2 linked regions of the Homo sapiens genome follow. The protein of the gene in region 1 interacts with the protein of each later gene in a pairwise test. Each region holds a gene or a part of one and is shown in the gene's direction. Other genes may lie near its edges.

Region 1 (7,466 bases):
CAGTCCAATCCCTCCTTTGGACAAATTGGATGCACTGAGGCCCCAAGAGGGTCAGGGATCAGCCCAGTGTCTCACCCAAATTGTGACAGGACAGACCCTGGAACCAAATCTCCTGACTTCTAGTCTTCTTTTCTTTTATAATTTGAGGGAAACATGGAGGGCAGGACTGCATGATTCAGCCTCTCCCTGGCAGGAGACTCCTCCTGTTGGAGTGGGGCCAGACCTGCCTGGTAATTGGTGAATGGCAGCAGAGGAGAGGGCCATGGCAGGGTCAGCAGCCTCCAGCACCCCAGAGCCATGGTGTCCTCCTCTGAGGGGGCCTGGGGTTCAAAACTGGTTCTGGCTAGAAGTGACATGGGGATCCCCTGTGCAGAGAGAACGCGGGGTGGGGGGTGTTGGGAAGGGGGATGGGGTTGGACTGTGTCTGATAATGAGCAGAAGAGTGAGACCAGACCCAGAGAGGGGTGGTGAAGACAGGGAGAGAGACAGATACAGCCCCAGCCTGGTCGAGTTACGCAGAGGTGGGTGTGTGCAAAAGCCTACAGTTAACCACCCCCCAATGTGTGCACAGTGCTTTATACTTTAGAAATCATTGCTGCATTTCATTTACTCAGCAGCTACTCTGCAAAGCAGATATTATTATCCCTGTTTTACTGATGATGAAGTTGAGACTCAGAGAGGTGAAGTGATTTACTGAAGGTAGCCCAGCAATTTGAATAGGATGCCTTGCTGAGCCATAGATGGGGGAAGAACTGGCTGCACCTCTGATTGGATTTGGTAAAGGAGGGCTGTCTGTGGGAGGAGCGGGCAGGCTGAATGGATTCGGGAGTGAGGGGCCGGCTGGAAACCCACAATCCACTCACTGGCCAAATAACCTTGACAAATCACAAAACCTTTCTTTTTGAGGCTCAGTTTCCTCATCTGTAAAATGGGAATAATGGTACTCCCTAACTCACAGCCTGTGAGGATAAAATAAAACAACATGATGAAAAATGATAACACTGAAACCGAATGCCTCGCACATTAGAAGTGCTCAGTAAGCAGCAACTTGAGTAATGAACATGATTGCACCCGGCCCCTGAGGAGTTTGCACACGGTGACCACCTGCCACGACTGAGGGATTCCCAGCGCCTTCTTTGGCAGCTGTGAGCGCGCCTGAGACCCCGTCTGGGGAACCCGCAGGGGTTGGGGGCAGGTTTGTCTGTCCCAGAGCCCCAGGCTGGTGATGACGCCTCCTGGGGATAAACCTCATCTCTCTGTTGTTTACCCCATGTGCGGTGACTTTGTCATTATCGTTCCTCCTGCGTTTTTTCTTTGAGTTATTTATTTTTCTGTGAGGAAGGAATGTGGGGAATTTACCACAGGGCGCTGTCCTTCACTTTCAGCTGGGCTGCACGGCGTCCTTTCCTATAAGAAGGAAGCTGCTGAGACAGATGGCAGGAGAGGTGGAGGCGGAGGGTCCCAGCTGGCTCTGTGGCCCAAGGAGTTGGGGGCAGTTATGTAACCCACCCGGAGGCCCAGGTTCTGGTCTCCGGGCATGAGCCTGGTAATGTACATAGCTCCTGTGGAACTGTGCCTAGCCCTCCCCATTCACCCCTGGCCTCTGGGCAAGCCCAGTGGGTGTGTTCCTCTATCAAAGTTTCCTTTCTATTCAGCTGGTCTTGATTTGGGGTATGGGGGTAGGTAGGGGAGTGGGGTGGGGGTTATCTTGAACCTCCTAGTCTCTGCTGAGCTATCATCATTGCTTAGAATGCTTCCTTATCTCCATCTTTCAAGAGCTAGGACATATGTCACCTCCTCCAGGAAGACTTCCTGGATTGCTTCATCCTAATTCATCTTTCTCTTAGGTTGTATGTTCTCCCCTCACTTCATGAAACATTCTTCCCCTTAGGTCTAACACAGTGATTTGAGATTTCATCTCCTTCCCTCACAAACGTGTTGCTCTCTCCTTCCTTCTCCTCCCACTCCCAGGAACCACCCTCTAGATCTTTGATCTAGAATCTAGATGAATCTTGGATTTAGACAAATCTAAAATTCATCTCCAGGGATGAATGGTGAAGCAAAATGTGAAGGGGGAGGCTTTGGATTCTGGAAGTGCTTGTCCTTTAGTAGTTTATTTAATCAACACAGTGATGGTTTCAACCCCTCCTGGGTGATGGCTTCTGCTGAGTCTGGGGACATTTACAGAGGACAGAGACCAGTCCTGGCCCTAGGCTGGCACAGGGCTAAGGGGAAGGACCACATCTTTGTGGCGGGCCCAGAGTGTGTCAGGCCCTGGGAAGAGTGGAGGGGACCCGCAGATGACCTAGGCCCTGCCCTGACCCTGGCAGAGGCACTGTTTAGGGGAAACCACCTCTTTCCCTGCCCTGGCTTGCCACCTTTTTGTCTTTTAGATTATGTGTTTTCTCTGGAAAGGCAGGGTATGATGGTTCTTTCTGTACTCCCAAGGCTTCCAGGGAGCTGGGGCTGGGGAGAGTGAAACAGCAGGAGGGGGCTTCGTGAGCACAGGCTTAGCTCACCAGGGTTGGACTGGAGAGGTGGAAGCCTGGGCTGTGATCCTGTGATCCTCTCTGTGAGCCCTCCCTTTTCAGTTTGCTGTATACCTGGGGCTCAGCTTGCCTCTCTCTGGGTTACCATCTCAAAGTTTCTAAAAATTGACTGATTATAGATTAATAATTACCCCAGTAGAATGGGCAAGAGAGAGGCTGTGGCTCCTGGCCTTTGGCAGGGCCCTGGTCAGCCAACAGGGAGCAGGGCTTGTGGTCTGCAAGGATAGAAGATGGGTCAGGCTTGCGCTGACTGTGGAGCCCTCATCTTAGCTTCCCCTTACCCATCCATCTCTGCCCTCCCTGATCCCGACCCACTGCCAGCAGAGAGAAACCAGAAGTTTGGCCAGGCCCAGCCTCCTTCCCCTGGGTTTCTGAGTTTTCTCAACCTGCCGTTTCCTCTGAGCTCTGTTCCTGCTCTGGGGCCTCTGGGCCAGGTTGAACAGGGGAGGAGCACTGATCTAGGAGTCTGAATGGATTGATGAGGGCTTCCTACAAGAAGTGGCCGTTGGGCTGGGCCTGGATGGGTGAGTAAGGAAGGTGAATTTGCTTTGTGGGGAGCTCTTCAGAAGGAAGGCGTCCAGGCTTGAGATCAGTCAGACCGCAGGGGCCCCTTGCTAAGCTGTGAGACCTGGGGTGAGTTAGCTGCTTCTGTGTGCCTCATCTTCCTTATCTACAAAATGGGGATAAGGGAACCTCCTCTATGAGTTGCTGTGAGGATTAAATGAAAAAAGGCATGTTAAACCCTTGGCTTGGCAGCATCTGGTGCTCCCAAAATGTTGGCTCTTGTCATTCTCATAGATTTCATGTTTATTCTGCAAGTGCCAATGGAAGATGTGGTGGGGACAAGGGAGGAATACCGAAGTGAAGCAGTAGAGGCCCCTGCCCTCGAGGCCGTTGCAGTCTCTGGGGGAAAATAGGGCCCAGACCCTCATTGCTACAAAGCAAAACACTGGGAGGGGGCAGCATGGCCCACGTGACTGGCCCTGCACTGGGCATTAGGCCAACCTGGGCTTGAATTTCAGCTCTTCCTCTGGCTGGCTGTGTGACCTTGAGCAAGTTGCTGCACCCCTCTGAGCCAGCGTCTTCTCTAATATGGAGATGAGGATAGTGCTGGCCTCATGGGTTGCTGTGGAAGTAAGTGAAGTAAGGCCCTGTCCTGCTACCTGGCATGTGGTGAGTATACCCTGAAAGATTACTTTTACTAGAATAAATAATACACAAGGTGGTGGTTATTAAGTGATGCAGACAGAACATTGGTGAAGGCTTTTTGGAGGGGGTGGTGGCATTCTAGGTAGGCCGGAAATCTGAAGGATTAGGGCATGTAGAAAGGATGTGAGACAGAGGAGGGTTCCCGGTAGAGGGGGTCTGTGCAAACGCTGCTTTGCAGGCAGGAATTCATTGGGCAGCTGTGGGAACTGCAAGCCACTGAACTCCCTCCACTGTTGCTGAGGGCACAGAGAGAAGGTGAGTGAGCTCTTGGGCAGGCCCCGATAGCAGGGGTTTGAATGCCAGGATGAGGACTCTCCTCTTGATCCTCCATGTCCTGGGGAGGCAGCAGAGGGTTTTGAGCAGGAGAGAGGCATGAGTGGAGCCCGGAGGGAGGAAGATGAATCTGGCAGCGTGGGGCGGGTAGATTGGCGGGGGAGAGACTGGGGGTGGAGAGGCCATTTAAAAGGCTGTTGCAAAATCGGTTTTCCTGATAAAGAGCTGGGCTGAGTCATCTGTGGAGGAGAAAAGTCACATCCAGCTCCTTCATGTTGCTGCCGATGTGGGATTTTCCTGGCTTCGTCAGCCAAGCAATTGGCTGCCTTTGCCGGAGGCTTTGAGAACCAAGGCTTGAAGGCCGGCAGGAGCATCCAGGGGGAAGCTTGGCTTCAGGGAGGACCTAGCAGAGTGAGTAAGATGAGCACCCGGAGGTGCCTTTGTGGCTTGGGGTATATGACTTAGGGCATGTGGCATCCCCCCTCTGATCTTAGTCTGTCCTCTGGGCATCAAGGGAGAGGTATGTGGTGATTTCTGCCAGCCTGTGAGTGGTGAGGCGGGGGCTGGGCCTGGGGCTCCCCACCCCATTTCTGTGTCTTCTCCCATGCCCGGCAGTCCTTCCCACCAAAGTCTAGATTGTTCTCCTCCCAAGAGGAGGTCTGGCAGTCTGCCGACCCCAGTCAGATTGCGCTCGCCATGACTCTGGGGATGGAGAATTCTCCAGGGCATGGAGCCTGTGTCATTTCCTCCTTTCAGTGGGAGGAATGGGGAAGGGGCTGGCAAGGTAGCCAGGCCATTACTCAGGCCTCTCCATTTTCCTGCCCCCAGCTGAGCCAGAGGTTGTGCAGTGGCCAGTCATTGGTTCCTTCCTGACCTCACCAGGGGGGCAGTTTACCCAGCCTGTTTACCCTTCCTGTCGCCAAGACCCCTGGACTACCACAATGGGCTGCCTTGAGCCAATCTCTATTCCTACCCCTGGCTCTCTGTCCCACCCCGCCCCACCTGACCCTGGCTGGACACTCCCATTGACGGCATCGTGTGAAGAAGCATTTCCTTGAATTCTCCCTGTCCTGACCTTCTGCTCTGGCCTCCCTTCCCCGGCCCCACCTCCCTCCTGTGGATCCTCCATCCACACGGGCCCCAGTGGTGGGCAGAACAAGCAGCTGTCCACAGTGGGTGGTAGGGGTGGGGGAAAGGGTTTGTCCCTTTCTACGCCAAACAAGAACTGGGGTCTTCTGACTCCCAACATAGTGATCTTCCCACTCTACTCATCTTTCATGCCTTATCAGTCCTTTCTACCTTAGTAAGAATGAGTTTATCAACTCTTCTCCTGAAAGGAAGAAGTGGAAGAAAGAAGGAGTTGTTCTAGGCAGCTGGGTTTTCAGGGGAGAAGACATTGCTGAGGGGCATTGATCACAAGATGAGGGAGCAGAGGGCTTTGCAGACCATCATCCAAGAGCACTGGAGCCTCTCTTGTTTCTCCTCTTTCCAGAGTCCTAGTCTGGAAGGAGAATAGTTAAGAGATTAGACTCAGAGCCAGACTTTTCTGAGTTTGGATTCCAGCTCTGCCACTCATAAGTTGTGTGACCCTGGGCAGGTCTCTCTGAGCCCCAGTTTCATCTGCAGAATGAGAAGAATCACAGGACTTATGTCTGGGAGCTGTTGTAAGAACTGAACAAGGTGGTGAGCATAAAGTGCACAGCACTGAGCCTGGGCTGCAGCAGGGGCTCAGTAGTGACAGCAGTCGTTGCAAAGCCCCTTCTCATGGCTGTGCTGGGGCTTCTCGCCTACTCCCCCACTTCAGGATTTACCCTGTTGGACCCAGGTCTCCTGACCCCAGGCAGCTTTTCATTGTGCCCGCCCTCCACCCCTTCCTCTCTTGAAGGCCTATCTTCAGGGCTCCTGATCCAGTGTCCAGGGTGGGTCTTTAAAGGGCTAGCACCCCAACTTGGCCCTGCAGAAGTTTAGGTGGGGAGGCGGTGGGGACATCATGACTTGCACAAGTGCAGGCCACAGCCAGGCCGATTGAGGGTTCAATGAGGTACCTGTCCCCTGTAGCCTTTGGCTACCTCCCCACCCCCACCTTTGACACCAAGAGCATGATCTTGAGCAGCTGCTGCCTGGGATATTGCCAGAGAGGGCAGCTCCCTAGTCTGAGGAATTTTAGATGGAGTTGCCCCCTGGTGCCCTGCTACGAGGGACTCTAGGGTGTCCCCCCGCCTCCCCAGCTTTGTTTGTGAAGGGTGGCGAAAATCATCTGGATGGCTGGCTGGATCTGGTCCAAACCTCCTGCTGAATTCCTTTTCCATGGAGTCACTGTGGGCTGGAGTGCGGGCTGCAGGAGCTTGCCTTGGAGGGCAGGGCTCTCTTACCTCCTGGCCTTTTCTGCCATTCCTCTTGTTCCAGAACAGTAGCTTGGGAGCAGTTCTAAGCTCAGAGAGGTGGTGGTGATGGGATCTTAGCGGCAGCCCAGGTTGTGCATGGAGCCTCACTGAGAGTCAGCTGACCTGGTCTTGGGCTCACATCCTCCTCTCTGACCTCTTCCTTGGCTGGGCCTCCCAGGCCAGCTTATTTCTAAAGGCCCTTCATATTCTGACATTTGAGGATTTTCTAAACCCATGGCCTTCTAGAGCCAGTAAGGAGAAAAGCAGAAAAATGCAGGGGCATTGAGAGGTCTGGAGTAATCAAACACTGAAGTGCTTTCTATGAGCCTTGCAAGGTGGGAACCGGCCAGCCAGGAGCCTGGTGCTCTCTGCAGTAACGTAGAGCCAGGTGTGAACAGAGCTCTACTCCTTCTGGCTCTGTGATCGTGGGCAGCTCACTTTACCTCTCTGAGCCGTAGATTTCTCATCAATAAAGTGTGCATAATAATAGTTTGTGATTTGTAGGTTTGTTTTGGAAATTAAATAATATGAGTAAAGTCTGTGTATAGGTGTACAGTAAGTGACCAATCAATATTAGCTACTATTGCTGCAACTGTGTCATAAGAAACACTGGCAGGACTAGAGATGTTTATCCTGACCCTGTCCCAAGGGGATCTGATGTATCTGCAAATCTCTGCAGGGCTGTCAGGCTGGAATGAAAGAGAAAACTTTTTGTTGTTGTTGTTGAGATGGAATGTCGCTCTGTTGCCCAGGCTGCAGTGCAGTGGCGTGATCTCGGCTCACCGCAACCTCTGCCTCCCTAGTTCAAGCGATTCTTTTGCCTCAGCCTCCCAAGTAGCTGGGATTACAGGCGCCCGCCACCACGCTTGGCTAATTTTTGTATTTTTAGTAGAGATGGGGTTTCACCATATTGGCCAGGCTGGTCTCGAACTCCTGACCTCGTGATCCACCTGCCTTGGCCCCCCAAAATGCTAGGATTACAGGCGCGAGCCACCGCGCCCGGCTGAGAAGACTTTTTCTCTGTGCAGCCTGGGGAGGCAGAACCACATCA
Region 2 (7,910 bases), on another chromosome or scaffold:
AATCACCTAACGATGCGTTTCTCAGAATGTATCCCTGTCATTGACACATGACTGCATTTGCAAAGCAGGACAGTATTTTTATTTAAATTATTATGCATGTTTATTTGGGGAGATGATGAAGATTGTGAGAGTCATTAATCCTGCCTCTAAACTATGCCTTGCTGTTGCCATAGGCTTTTGCCCCTAATTTTAGCCCTTTCCTGCATAGTTTCTTGGTGGTGAAAAAACTGGATGAAAGGGAAACTAGAATTTTGATTACTTTCTCTGCTAAGTAAATGTCAATCCATTCAGAACCAGCTACCCAGAGAGGGGTGAGGGGTAGGGAAATGGGGACAATGCAACCTAAAAATCCTCCTGCTAACATCTCTGGTTCCCCTTTGTAAGTTGGATGGACTTCTAACCTCTTTTTCCTGAGCCAGAGTTTCCCAAATTGTGTTTCCTGAGTGTCAATGGATATATAACACAAAAGGTTTTTAGGGTCAAATTAGTTTGGAAATGCTATATAGTAAGTCCTCATTTTTATCATTGTTAGGTTTTTGGAAACTGCAACTTTAAGCAAAAGGATGTATCATGTAATCAATTTTACCATAGGCTAATTGATATAAACAAGAGTTAAGTTTCTATGGCATATTTCTGGTCACAAAACATCAACGAACTTCTAAACAAAGACCAAAACACTTCTAATATTAAACATTGAAATAAGTGTAAGCTATGCATACATTTAAGAAAGATTAGGCTGGGCACGGTGGCTCATACCTGTAATTTCAGCACCTTGGGAGGTCAAGGGGGGCAGATCACTTGAGCTCAGGAGTTTGAGACCAGCCTGGGCAACATGGTGAAACCCCATTTCTACAAAAAAATACAAAACTTAGCCAGGCATGGGGGTGCACGCCTGTAGTCCCAGCTACTCGGGAGGCTGAAGTTGGAAGATTGCTTGAGCCAGTGGGGTGGGGGTCAAGGCTGCAGTGACCCGAGACTGTGGCACTGCACTCCAGCCTGCACAGAGTGAGACTCTGTCTCAAAGAAAAGAAAAGAAAAGAAAGATTAATAAAAACAAGAAATGTACTCCCGCTTATTCCAGTTCAGGGTTACAGGTGGCCGGAGCCTATCCTGGCACAAGGCAGGAATCAGTTCTGGACAGCACACAGGACACCATCCCATTGCAGGGCACACTCACACACCCTGACACTCACTCAGACTGCAGGCTTGCAAATGAACCTCACCTGCACAGCTTTGGGATGTGGGAGGAAACCAGGGTATCTGGAAGAAACCCACACAGACAGTGGCCCTGGCCTCAAGCGGATTTTTTTTTTTTTTTGAGATGAGGTCTCGCCCAGGGTGGAGTGCAGTGGTGTGATCATGGCTCACTGCAGCCTCGACCACCCAGGCTCAAGTGATCCTCCCATCTCAGCCTCATGGGTAGCTGGGATCACAGGTGTGCACCACCATGCCCAGCTAATTTTTAATATTTTTGTAGGGATGGGGTCTCACTATGTTGCTCAGGCTGGTCTCAAACTCCTGGGCTCAAGCAATCCTCCTGCCTTGGCCTCCCCGAGTGTTGGAATTACGGGCATGAGCCACCATGCCTGGACTCATCAATGTTATCATGAAACGATCTTGCACAAAATGATGTTATTCAAGGATCTGCTGTATTAACAAAGGAGTGTATTAGCTTCCTAGGGCTGCCACAAGAAAGCACAATAAACTAAGTGGCTTAAAACAAGAGAAATGTATTCTCTTACAGTTCTGGAGGCTGGGAGTCCAAAATCAAAGTGTCAGCAGGGCTGGCTCCTTCTTGGGGCTCAGAGGGAGAATGTGTTCCATGCCTTCTCCTGGCTTCTGGTGGCTGCCAGAATCCTTGGCATTCCTTGGCTTGGAGCTGCATCACTCCAATCTCTGCCTCTTTCTTCCCATGATATTCCCCCTGTGTGTCTGTATCTTTTTTCTTCTCCACTTATAAGGACACTACTCATTGGATTTAGGGACAACCTACTCCAGTATGATCTCATTTTAACTTGATTACATCTGCAAAGACTCTATTTCCAAATAAGGTCACATTTACAGGTAGCAGGGGTTAGGACTTGAACATATCTATTTGGGGGGAATACAATTCAACTCTCAACAGGGAGAAACAGATTTTTTCATCTGACAGCTTCTTACAGGCTTTAATTTCAGTGACTCTGCAAGAGGGGAGGACATAAAAACCATGTTTTTTTTTATTTTTTGTTTTTTTTTAAATGGAGTATTTTATGTAACTGGTGTTCTAAGGAACATGTTTGGGGAAAAATGCCTTGGGTGAGTGAGACTATTTAGCAGTGGCCACTCACTTTACCAAAGATTCACAGTGACTGACCATATAGTCTGGTTGCCTAACGATAGATGCTTCTTATGGCTGTCCCTCAAGAGATTGTTGGCAGTCCCTGTGGCCTCTTTGTAAGGGTTCCCATACCTGGCTGGTGAGGCTGCAGTAGTATGGTGGGGGAGGCTGGCCAAGCAGGCCATCCTGGAGAACAGTGTGTTTGTGTTCTGATGTTTGTGGCTACAGTGCTCTGGTTTCAGACATCCTGGAACTTCCATGATGTTGCATTTTTCTGAATTCTGAAAGGGAATATACAATCTGCATGTTCAAAGGTGAAATGAGGGACAGTTGACAGGGCTGTTTTACCTGGATGAGTAAGTTGTACAATGCATGTCTCTAGGGGTGGAATTCACATAGTGGAGATGGTAGATCCAATTTTCTTGTAATAGAGTGCCCTGTTCTCAGAACACCAGTATTTTGTGACAATTTTCCAGCATGTGGCATAAAGTGTCTTGAGGAAGGGGCACCTTTTTCTAGTTCTCACAAAAGTAACATATGGTAAAGAGGTGGCCCTGAGTGGGAGGGAGAAGCCTTCATCAACTCTTGGAATGTGAGATCTGAAAGGCCTCTGACAGAGTATTGGTCCATCTCTGGAATTGTTAGGACTCTTCCTTACAAATAATAGAAACCCAATTCCAAGTGGCTAACACAAATAGGAAACTAATAATCAGAATGCAAGGACAGGAATGCAGCTGGGACTCAGGAACATGCTGGATCCAGGTACTCTGACATGGTCAGGACTTACATCTCTCTCTTTACCTGCTTTTTTCCCTTAGTCCAAAACATGGTGGTAGACAACTCCTGGGTGTCACGTGTTGGATGTTCAGCAGTCAGTAGAGACTGACCTCCTCTATGCTCCAGTGTTAAAATCTCGAAGACCTAGTATTTGATAGCACAACAGGGTGACTATAGTAAAAAATAATTTAATTGTACATTTAAATTAACTAAAAGATTATAATTGGATTGTTTGTAAAACAAAAGATAAACACTTGAGATGATGGATACCCCATTTACCCTGATGTGATTATTATGTGTTGTATGCCAGTATCAAAATATCTCATGTACCCCATAAATATGTGTGTACTATGTACCCACAAAAATTAAATATAACAAATTAAAAAAAAACCGCCCCATTACAGGAGAGGTCCAAATGAAAACATTTTGTTTGAGTTTAACTGGCCACAGGTCCAATGGTTTCTTATACACCACACAGTGGGTAAACAGCTCAAGGGCGGGCTGCCCGCCAGCATAAACCTTTGAGTGGCAAACACTACCAGGGTGGCCATGGAAAATGCCCTCTTGCTGACCATAATTGCACAGAATGTGTGTAAATAAAAGCTAAAAGGAAAAAGAAAATTCTGTAGCTCTTCCAGAAGAGGCAAACGGAGAAATGAAGAAATATAAAGAGATAGGCACTATATAAATACTAAGTACTATAAATAGGGCATTTCCCAACCCACTAAATATTTTGATATTTTCCAGGGATGGAGCCAGAGATGTTCTGGAAGGATGAAGGAGACTGCATGAGTAATTGGGGTGGGGTAGCAGAGAGTTTGCCAATCCCTACCTCACTGGGTTTTAGTTATGTTTCAGTTAATCTGCCTCCTCATTTACGAGGCGGGTATTGTTAGCTCCACTTTTCAGATGAGGATACTGAGATTCAGTAAGGTTATTACCCAAACTTATGAGAAAGCCAAGATTTCACAATATTTCAACCCAACTCGACTTTGTCTAATACCAGTGCGTACCAATGGCATTATTAATCCAGACTGGGCGATGAATTAAAAACTCTGACGTGACGTTTCTGCAGGTTTCTGGAAGAAGCCTGGATCACCTGGGGACGGGGTGAAGTTGGCGTTGCCCTCCTTGCAGTAATAGCTGCTATTGTTTTGCAGCAGTTATTATGGATCAGATACTGTGCTGGGTCTATGATCTCATTTAGCCCTTACGACAATCCTGTGAGGTTGGCATTACTATGATCTCTATTTTACAGGTTAGGAAACTGAGCCTTAAATAAACTACTGGATTTTCCTGAGTATTCTGTGAATAAATTCCTATTACTGAAATACTTGAAAGGGCTAGATTAATAAATTAACAAAGCCTTCTTCGGAGCAACTGTGCTGAAATTCCGTACGCGTGACGTTCCCACCCTCTGCCACTCGGTGACGTCACGATCAATCCCACCACTAAGTTCCCAGCCAAGCGCTACCGCCGCTATCTCGCGAGAGCCGTAGTTTCTTCCATTCTGTTTTGGACATGCGCGGGGCGTAAGGCGCTTTGGCCAGAGTGGTTTGATGGTTTTGTGTTAGTCTTCCTGCAGCTGAGCTTCCACAAGACACTTTTTCCCTTTCAGCCACCCAATATCTCGCGAGACTTGCTATTCTGCGCCCCCTCCCACCTTGCGCTTGCGCAGATCTTCAAAGCAGAAGGTCGCGCTTGGAGGAAGTGGCGGCTTTGAGTCCGGTGGCCCAATCGCTGTTACTACTTCTCTGAAGCTCCTCTCGGCTGCTTGCCGAGACACCCTGCCGCCAAGATGCCTCGAATTATGATCAAGGGGGGCGTATGGAGGAATACCGAGGTAAGTCTCCTTTTCCCGCCGTCCGCTGCCCGCCGCTCCCTCTAGCAGCTTGTGCGCACGCGCGCGGAGGTCGGGGGGGCGACGAGGAGACCCTGTGGGGTCTGCGTGGAGGGCAGCCCGGGGGCTGACCCTTGGGGCCCTTTCCGTGTGTCTGGCCCCGTGTTGTGCGAGCGCCAGTAGGACAGGGACCGTGATGTCACCACCTGGCTACTCGGCTCCAAGCTCACTTGTTAGGCCCTGAGTGAACATTTGTTGACTTGAATACGCCCCCTCCCACCCCGCCCCCCCGCCCCCCCCGGCCCCGGGAAGAACTCAGAGTTCCAACTCAGCCAGAGTTGGTCCCCCGGGGCACCATCCACTCTTAGTCCAGGCACCACGACTCTGTCTCATACTCAGAAATAAAGAAGTTGCCGTGGCCACAACTTTGTGTCTCCATTGACTTCCTTGCAGAGGGGAAGCAGTTTGAGTGCCAGGTTCAGAGAGCCCGTTTATGCCCGCATCTCTCTGGTTATCTGTTATCAGGGCATAACCTGTCTGCCATCTCGACAGATCCCAAGGTCTGTCTCTTTCTGTCACTGCCTTTGCCTAGATAGAAGCCAGAAAGGAAAAACTGGCCTAGGATAGTCTCTGTTTCCAGAAACGTAGTGGATAGTGCCATTGGTGAGCCAAAGGGCAGTAGAGTGGGAGTGAAATAGAAATTAGATTTTAGTGCGTTTTGTGTTCAGAGTGTACCGAATTTATCAGTTTCTGGAGCACATCATGTCTTTTCATGCTCTGTGTCTTTTTTTCGTTACATTTTATGGCTTCTTTTTTTTTTTTTTTTTACATCTTTTGCCTTCCTAGCGCTTGACATCTTTCTGATCATCCTTCAAACCTAGTTCGGAAACACTTCTTGGAATCTCTGTAAGAATTAATTGCACCCCCGATATTCTCATGATACCTTTTTCTTCCGTTTGTTAAAACTTGCTTTGTCTTTTTGTAAGCATCACATCCTCTGTGTGGTACTCGGTAAGTTTCTTAACTTCTGAAAGCCTCAGTTTTCTACTTTTTCTAAATTGGGATAATAATACTTAACCTCTCTTGAGGATTACACGAGTTAATACGTTTGGAATATTTAGATCAGAGTAGGGCACATAGTAGCCTCTGAGTAAGAGCTAGTTGCTCTTTCACCTCACCAGACAGCATGGCGAGAGGACCAGGTCTTGGTATCCCTAGGACCTAGGACAGTAACCAACATGAAGTAGGTTGCTCGACAGGTATTTGCAGAATGAATCAAGTAGAGTAGGTATCTGCTGTATCTATTTAATTGAAAATGTGTTTAAGTGTAGTTGTACTGCAACCAAGTTACAAAAAAGACAATGAAAACTGCCTCAGCTTCCACCGAGGGAACCAGACTGTTTAAATTGGAGAAGAGATGACTTCTGAGGGAGAGACAGATATAAAATCAAGTAACAGTAGGATTCCTATGCAGTGGTCAAAGCTCTGCAGTCTTTTTAAAAAGTATCTTTGATCATGGGAGATGTAGAGGATGGAGTGGGGTATCTCAAGAGGCACGTACCTCAAATCCAATGTGGGAAAAAAAGCCTAGAAGTAAAATCGCCTAAGTGCATGCATCTATGGCTCCATTAACTTTCTTGTCTTTGGCTTGGCTTGCCAGGCTTCCTTGAGGTTGGTGCATTCCACATGGCAATGGGTGCCCTGGTGAAATGGTATCTAGAGATGGGGGGAAATTGGAAGGAGAGCTGACTAGTGGGGTTGGGGTAGAAATATGTAATTCTTAGGTTAGACCTGAGATGTGGATTCTTGGGTCATAGTTGGGGTTAAGGGGCTGGAGGGGAAATGCCATGTATAAACTTGAGACAGGAGGCTTGGATTGGAGAATATATTCACCAGAGTCCCAACTTGCTTCTTGAGGCCTGGATATGTCCTGTTTGATAAGACCTTTCCCCAAGGGAAAGGTAGATGTTTCAAGGTAGATGTTCAGGAAGTGTTTTTTGAGTGAGTGTATAAATGAATGAGTTATACATTTTTGTTGTTGTTGTGTTTTTTAGTTATCCTTTTTGAAGAGAAGGACAGCCACACGTTGAAGAATACTTTTTCTTAATTTTTGTCATAAAGTAGGGTTTCTCAGATTGGGCTGTTCCCACTCCCAATTTATTGGAGAGTGTGGTGTAAGGGTGGGTAGCTGTCTTTCTAAGGGATTTCTTCTTAATTTCTCAATTCTTGGTTGCTGTTATTATAGTTAATGAGGTTTTCATCCTTAGTCTTTTAACCTAGGTGGTGTGTATGTGCATGTTATATGTCTCTTTCTCCAATAGCCCTATCAGAGTTAATTTAAATTTTGTCTTTTCCCACTTGGAGTTTTGTGACTGAATGTACTCTTTGGCAATTTTTTTTAGGATGAAATTCTGAAAGCAGCGGTAATGAAATATGGGAAAAATCAGTGGTCTAGGATTGCCTCATTGCTGCATAGAAAATCAGCAAAGCAGTGCAAAGCCAGATGGTATGTATCAGTTTAATAAGTGGAAAACAGAAAAGGAGCTTAATTATGATGATGGAAAATGTCAACTCTGTGAACCTTATCAAAGAAAGCAGACATTGTAATATAACAAGGCATGGAGTGGGAGATGGAAGTTGGGTGTTTGACTTAGCTGTCACTTGCTTCCTGTGTGGTCTTAGGCAAGCCATTTTTCTATCCCTCTCCCCTGCCCTTGTTTTCTCCCAATTAGGGATAATAATACTTGGTCCTGACTGATAGAGATGTGAGTTGTCATCTAAATGGGTTAATGTATTTGAGAGTGCTTTGTGAAGCATACAAAGTCTACTTTCAGGGACAGATGAGCCCCAGCTTGTAAATTAATTGTGTTCTAAAAGTGCATAAGTTAGCTGTTTTAGAAATTACTTGCTCAAAGAAATAAATGATAAATAATGGCTAATTTTCTAAGTAAGCCTACAGTAGTTGAGTTTCCTCAT

Evidence for each region.
Region 2: the proteins of SYNPO (region 1) and CDC5L interact in binary tests that used the Homo sapiens proteins (3 or more experiments, as listed by UniProt).

The regions. Positions count from the first base shown.
Region 1 is NC_000005.10:150,636,413-150,643,878, forward strand, and holds the start of SYNPO (synaptopodin), read left to right. Parts: upstream 1-4,247; 5' UTR 4,248-4,442; intron 4,443-7,466. UniProt on the Homo sapiens protein: Actin-associated protein that may play a role in modulating actin-based shape and motility of dendritic spines and renal podocyte foot processes.
Region 2 is NC_000006.12:44,382,932-44,390,841, forward strand, and holds the start of CDC5L (cell division cycle 5-like protein), read left to right. Parts: upstream 1-4,774; 5' UTR 4,775-4,892; coding exon 4,893-4,937; exon of another isoform or gene 4,938-4,988; intron 4,989-7,336; coding exon 7,337-7,440; intron 7,441-7,910.